2 linked regions of the Homo sapiens genome follow. The protein of the gene in region 2 purifies or fractionates together with the protein of the main gene of each other region. This does not show direct contact. Each region holds a gene or a part of one and is shown on either strand. Other genes may lie near its edges.

Evidence for each region.
Region 1: the proteins of TWF1 (region 2) and CAPZB purify together in Homo sapiens (affinity purification with mass spectrometry; 3 studies listed by BioGRID and IntAct, with this or other methods). This does not show direct contact.

What each region holds. Positions count from the first base shown.
Region 1 is NC_000001.11:19,478,940-19,482,539, forward strand, and holds part of CAPZB (F-actin-capping protein subunit beta), read right to left. Parts: intron 1-3,600. UniProt on the Homo sapiens protein: F-actin-capping proteins bind in a Ca(2+)-independent manner to the fast growing ends of actin filaments (barbed end) thereby blocking the exchange of subunits at these ends.
Region 2 is NC_000012.12:43,804,576-43,808,518, forward strand, and holds the start of TWF1 (twinfilin-1), read right to left. Parts: upstream 1,743-3,943; 5' UTR 1,671-1,742; coding exon 1,646-1,670; exon of another isoform or gene 1,256-1,645; intron 1-1,255. UniProt on the Homo sapiens protein: Actin-binding protein involved in motile and morphological processes. Inhibits actin polymerization, likely by sequestering G-actin. By capping the barbed ends of filaments, it also regulates motility.

The DNA of each region.
Region 1 (3,600 bases), on a different chromosome or scaffold from region 2:
TGGCTCATGCCTGTAATCCCCAGCACTTTGGGAGGCTGAGGCAGGCAGATCATGAGGCCAGGCGTTCAAGACCAGCCTGGCCAACATGGTGAAACCCTGTCTCTACTAAAAATACAAAAAATTAGCTAGGCATGGTGGTACGCACCTGTAGTCCCAGCTACTTGGGAGGCTGAGGCAAGAGAATTCCCTGAGTCTAGGAGACGGAGGTTGCAGGGAGTCGAGATCGTGCCACTGTACTCCAGCCTAGGTGGCAGAGCGAGACTCTGTCTCAAACAAACAAACAAAAAAAAACTAGCTTCTGTTATTCCTACAGCTGCCATGCAGAGCCCGCCACCCCACCATCTCCCTCAGCAGACTGGTGTCTTAGGCACCAGAACCTAATGCTGTGTGCATCAGGCTGAACTTGGTGCCACCTGCAGTCACAGAGTCACTGGCTGGATGGATCACTGGGCTACCCAGACTGAAATCCCCATTCAGTTGTTAACAGGCTCTCAAGGCTTTGCAGACACCACTATCTAGGATTTAGACTGACCTGAAATAGCTGTGTGTCAATGATAAACTGTCCAATCAGAACACCTACATGGGACAGCTCTGGGGCAGACCCCCTCAGCTCCAGAGGTGGTAAATCATTCCGTGTCACTCTGCCTTTATCTCCTTCCACCATCCCTTCCTTTCCACACCCACAGCTGCACAGTGGCCAGGACCCTCATAAGCTCACAAGCTGATGCTTGTGGAGGCCTCTCTCCCATCTCTTTCACCTCCCAGGCCTCCTGCATGCACAGCCAGAGGGCTCTTCCTAAAATACCACCGCTCTGCCAGCCTCCTCGAATTTCTACCTGCCCTGTCAAAAATTTCACTGGCTCCACACTGTCCCAGATCTAATGCAAACTCCTTAGCTTAGCAACTCAGGCACTCCACAACTCACTCCTGAGACTGAGGCACCCCATGGGCTCGCATCTACTGCTTGTGTGACCACACCCCCTGACCTCTGCTTTTGTGCCAGTCCCCTTGACCATACCCCACCCTGTCCTCTCTGCCTGAGCACACTCTTCCCAGGCTTCATGCCCAGCCCCCAAGCCGACTGCAGGCTGGAGTGGTCTGCAGGGCTGCGTGGAGGAGGGGGAAATGCAAGCCAGGCCTGCAGGGATGGGCAGACCACAGCACCCATGGGTCCCTGGCTAAGTCTTTTCTAGTACTACTTCATTCCTGCTGCACTTGGCTTTTTGGACGCATCTTGCCTCCCCCTCCCAGATTAGAGGACAGGGATGATGGCTTCTATTTGTGTCCCTTATTCTGTGGTATGCAGAATAAGACATGCAACAACCACAGCTACTGTGTGCCAAGCACTGGAGTAAGTACATTACAAATTTCACCCCTACTCCCCATCTCTATAAAATGTTATCCTCATGCGACGGAACAGGAAAACTGAGACCAAGGGAATTAGCCGCCTCACTGACAGTCACATGCTGAGTGGCAGACAGGACTCAAATCCAGATGTGCCCAACTGCAGAGACCATGTTCTGTGGAGCAGGCAGCCGCCTCTCAGCTCTCACTCAGTGTTTATGTAGCTGGCGCTAAGTGCCAGGCGGCCAGTGCAAGGTGTGGGGTACTCAGAGGGAACCAAACAGACAAGGTCCCTGCTCTCACAGAGCTCATATGCTCTGTCCCCAGCCCTGTCTCTCTTCTTCCAAGCCTGGAAGAGGGCAGGAACCCTCCAGTCACAGGGGGTTCCACTGGCACAAACAAGGAATTCGGGCCTGACATATAGCATGAGGCTCTGGCAACACATGGTGCCCAGCTCACAGTGAGCTTGTCTTTAATGGAGAAAAGAGCCCCAGGCTCTATTAGGTAAGTTGTGCGTTCAAGGCACAACCCAGAGCCAGACAAACTCCAAAGCAGCCATCGGCAGGCAGTACGGAGTGGAGAAAAACGGTTTGCTCTGGAGTCAGAAAACCCAATTCCTCCACTTAGTAGCTAGACAGGGACTAACCATACACCCCTTTGCACACTTTTGGAAAATGGTGATAATAACAATAGTTAATGTTTACATCACTATGTGCCAGATGCTACTGGATGCACTTGACAGATATTACTTAACCCTCATTACGACCTTATGCAGAGGTACTGTTATCCTAAAGCAGTCTGGCTCCTAACTCTATTTTCTTGTACTATGCTGCCTCCAGCCTAAAGTTGAACCTACCTTGTCAGGCTGTGGTGAGGACCGTTCTAACAGAGTGCATAGCATGTGGCTGGTGCTCCATAACCATTAAACCTCCCTTTCCTTCCACTGAAACATGAATCTGTGAAAGCCTAGGTCTGGAAATAGCATATGGCTCTAGCTGGTCCCAATATGGGTGATCTTGCAGTTGCATCCCCTGGAATTCCACACCGCACCCTCACTGGTGGATCTGCTGCAAGGGGAAATGGGACAAGATCCTGTATTTACGGGGCCCTCTGCTCACTGTGTTCTGGAAAACACAGTGAGTGGGGTCCAGCACATGACTTGGGCTGACAGGGATCCGAATCCCAGGCCTGCTGTTCACACCGGTCACTCAAGCTCTCAAGCTTCAGGTTCCTTGTGAGTAAAATGGGGGCTGGGCTATAACCTAAGTCATGTTTCTGGGTCACAGCAGATCCTCGGGTACCCGGGTTGGACAGGCTGGACAAAGCTACCCAGGCTGGACTTCCAAGGTACTGTAAGGTTTCATTTCGGGGCCCCAGAAAGCCTTGGCTGTGCAGAGGAGCGGACTGCGTGCACGTGCAATCCAATTCCACCCAATGGCAGACACAAGAGAAGACACACCCCAAAAGGCCTGGGAGTGGAGCCTGGCACAAGCCCCCAGCTTTCTCTTCAGTTTCCTGCCATAGCTCATGCAGATGTGCCTGCAGGTACACTGAACAAGGCTCTTTCCCCCTTAAGCTTTAGGTAACGATGACATCCCCACCCCTCAACAATGTGAGCCATGAGGGCAGAGATCCTTGTCTTGCATCCTCAGCACATAAGCACCACAGAGTAGGCACTTAATACACAAAAAGCTGAATTAACATTATCCTGTAGCTGCAGGTACCCCACAACATGCCTCAGTATTTGCCTAACAATAAGCATTTCCCAGCCTGGAGGGAGGGCAGGCTTCTAACGGGCGAGGCACCTGCCCTGCCACCATTTCCCTGTGGTCAGTCATGTCCTGTTCCCCACCTCATGGAATGTAAAAGTATAGGATGTCTGAGTTATAAATAGGAGCATCTGCTTTCAAAGACACGGCTTATCATTTCCTTAATCTCAAGCCACTGATCACTGCCTACTTTTTATAAGCATGCCACCAAAAAGAGGCCAGGTGGGCTTAAATGAACAGGGCTGTATAGACAGACAAGAGGGATGTGAGTTGAACAATGTGTCTTATCCACATCAAGAGACATTAATGTCAACTATGTTGTTTCACCTTGTAACAATACCAAGTTCCCATCAGCTCCTGCCAGGCAAAACCATCTGTGAGCTGGAGCAGCAATTCCTGAGGGGGCCTCCCTAGTCCCCGTTCCTGCTAAAGCCTCACCATCATCATAACTAAGAATAATTCCCAAGTCAGAAACTGAAGCTGTGTA
Region 2 (3,943 bases):
TGGAAAAAGATAAAGAAAGTAAACTTTTTATACTTACATATAAATACTTTCCTATCTATATTGGAAAAGTTAATTAGAATACAAAGAAAAAATCTGGAGCATGTAGCATCCTTATTATCAGTATTATAAAACTTTACCGCATAAAATAACGAAGACTGTATACAATTAAGAAATATAAATATTAGCATTTTAAAAGTATGTTAATAATTCTAATCTGTTTTAGCTACATAATTCTGTGCAGAAATAACACTGGGGTGAATATACTGAAGTTACTCAAACCCAATAATGAGCAAATTACAATTTTGAAAAACTTTTCTTGCTCTTTTGAAAAATATTGAAAACCTGCTTTCATTCTCTAATTCAGTTTCAAGCTTATGACAGACACTCCTTCATCAATTCACTTTCTGTATTTTCCCGTTAAAAACAACAGTATATATCAAATATCCTAACTTGTTTAAAGAAAAAGACAATAAAATGCATTCAGTCTTAACTCTGGTTATATTTTTCTAACTTGCATTTCTCAAAAGCTAGATTAAACTCATTGAATAAATATGTATTTAATAACTAACCCTTGTGTTCCTATTAAAGCTTCAATTTCGTTCTAATTTCGTTCCTGTGTTGTCTATTAGCAGCAAGAACCACTATGTAAGTAGGTAGTGCTTGCTATAAGGCTCAAGCATGAGAGTCAATAACTACATATTTATATATCGAAATTAATGCGGATAAATAAAACAAAGTTTTCAGATTTGAGACTATTTTGCTTCTGCGTGCGTGCAGGGGGATGTGTGCGGTGGTGTCAAAAATCTTTACGAATAAAACATACAATTAAGTGTTCATCTGGGAGAAAGACTCGCTATTAACAGTAAGAGCTTGAGTTTACACTAGAACTCGTTAAGTGATCGCGAGTAACCCGGGGATATATTATTTGACTCTTGATGAGGTGAGTACCTGCAGGCTGCCCAATTTCAAACCAGGAAATAATGGAGGTCAGATATAACTGCATATTGAACTGTCTGCACGCATTACATGCAACCATACAGATCAGTTTCCCTTGGGGAGTATCTAGGAAAAAGATCAAAACACACGCTTACACTCGAGATTTCTCAGAACATAACTCTCATTTTCCTATTTGGAGAGAAAATGCGGGAGAGTTTTGGGAAGCACCCCTACTGATGTGAGAAAGATTCTGGCATGGTTCTTTTTGTAATCAAAGTCCTGTAATATTCTCCTTTGGACCATGAAAAAGAAAACTCGCCTGGTTCTCGACAGCGTACTGAAGCCCCAGTCGCCTCCACTGTCCCAGCTCTTCCCTACGTGACCAAAAGGGGGAAAGTTGGGCGACTGTCGGGGACGGTGGAAGGCACGCCCCCTTCAACCAGGCCGCCTCGAAAGCCAATTTCCTTCGCTCCCCCGAATTTCGGATCAATCTGCAACGTGACGGCAGCAGGGACCGGGCTGGAGGAGGACGCAGGCCGGCAGCGCCCGGGAAGCAGGAGCGCGGAGAGGCGCCGAGGCCCGGCTCGCCCCGCGAGACCGACTTCCGGAGCTCCCGGCCCGACTCCAGCCCTGCCGGTCCTGCAGCCCTCCCGGCTCTCCCGGCTCTCCCGGAAGCCCCTTCCCTGCGAGTCGCGCCGGGCGCTGTTACCTTGGATGCCGGTCTGGTGGGACATGGCGGCGGCCGCTAGCTCCCGGCTCCGGCGCTGAGTGCAGCCAGCGGCCCCGGCCGGCGGCCCCAGGAAGTGGCTGCTCCTCCGCCGGCCCCGGCGCGTCATCCGCCCGCGACCCGCGGCCGCCCCGCCCCGTGAGGTTGACTGAGTGCCCGAGCGTCCCCGCCGCCCCGCCGCCCTTCCTGGCCGCCGGGCTGCGGTCCAGCCCCCGGCCTCGCTATCCTAGTTCTCTGCTTGGGGTCCTGCTTCTGCTCTTGCCGCCGCCTCTCCCGCTTCTTCCGGGGGGGACATGCCGCAGAATCTAGACTGCTCAGTGCTCCGACGTCTGCTCTCTGACAACCCCGCCGACGCCGCCATTCGCTGCCTCAGCAAAGGGGTGCTCAAAAACGGAAGTGATCATTTTACCAAATAGGCATTTTCCAGCTTAAAAAAGATGTGCACATTATTTTTCTTGGTTTACTCTTCCTATAATCGATACCGTTTAGTGTAGAAAAGCCTTCTCCTTGCTCCATTGTTTTGAAAGAATTAATATAGACTGCCTCTCATCAAATTTTTCCACGATTTTAAATTAAGTTAATCTCAGACTGTTAACTTTTCTTTTCAGCTGGACACATTTAGAGACTCAGTGTATCTTTCTCTTCACTCCGGAAAGAGACAGCCACTAAGAGATTAGCTGATTTGAGTATCCCTCTGTGGTCGATTATACCATTGCAAATCCTGCTCTGCTTTAGGTTGGCAGTTTATTATTTAATCCAGTAATTATTCAAAATTCACTTGGACAGATTTGTAAGGTAGCAGCAGATATTACTTAAAAATCTTTTCCTTTCCTGCTTTTACAAACATGTAGTTCCTTCCTGAAAGGTAATGTTAGTTTTGTGGGGGGTTTGGTTTTTTTTTGGTACTGCTTCTCTACTGCTACTAGGTGGGAAGCTAGTTCTTATTTTTAGGGCCTTGAAGTGACACATACACAAAATTATAATCTGCTAATGAAGAAATAATTTATTCAGGTCAATAATATAAGTGCAAGTTAATCACTGTTCCAGTACTATACGATGTATTTTTCATGAGTGATGAACAGGCCTGCAATTGTTTTTCTTTACAAGAATCACAGCAAACAAGGTTATGTTCTATTGCCTGTTATCTGAGCTCTGTTTTTCAGACATATTCTCATATTCAGGAATAAACTAAATCTGAGTTTTATGACTTGTATGGATTTAAGAAATGTAGGGAGGAGTTTCATTCTAATCAAATTCTTCCTGACACAATGGTTCACCCTGATTTACCAGTTTTTGACTACATTGCTGAGCAGAGAGAAAATTGCAGAGTTGACTTGCAGTATTTTGACTGATTCATGTCCTAGTGCTTCGGGGAAATTGCTTAAGGAAGTTGGCGTTGCTCAAAAGTATAGTTGAGCAAAATATAATCCTTCCATATTCGTGCTTGGGAAAGGCCACTGTATTCTCAGTCCTGAAGAAGAGGAATGTCTAGTTAGGTTGGGACCACCCTGACAGCCACCAGAAAGTGCTTATTTACTGCCAGTACAATAGTTTGACTTAAAAGCTGCAAGCGTCTTGGGTACCTTGCTCTGCTCTAGCCACAAATATTTTCCCACTTTTCTTCATCTATTGTGTCTCCATTTAGTGAACATTTGCCAGAGCTGTCATGAGAATAATACCTTAGATTTGTATGGTAGTTTACAGTTTACAAATAATATATAATAGACTTATTTTGAGTACCAACATCCTGTGTGACGAGCTGAAAAAAATAGCAGGTTTTGTTTTTTAACTTTAAGAGGTTTGGAAATTGAACCACAGAGTTGGGAAGTCAGCAGGTTTCAAGGCTAAGACAAGTGTCTGTAAGAAACAAACCATTTGAAAACAATGTATGCAGATAAGAGGGTTTATTATAAGGATATTGGAGGATCTTATAGATCTTGACAACTTGGTTGTCACCTCTGCTTTTCTCTTCTTTTTCTCCAAATAAGATCTCTCTGCTTGTGCAGTCAAAATGGCTGAATATGGCTACCCTACACTTTCCAAATTGACAGGGTTGTAGCTGCATGCAGAGATTACATAGCTCTTCTAAGTCCAAGTTTAAAGTTCCTAAGAGAAAGCACGTGAATGACCCTGCTTGGCTTGTGTCAAATCATTCTTGGCCAAGGTGGCTGGTTTACCCAATATACACTGCCCATGAGTGAAAGGCAATTATCACAGGAGGGGAGATGGATCTTGGGTGTGGGAAACAGGTGTAGAATTCCTACTTTTTACAGTTTGGTA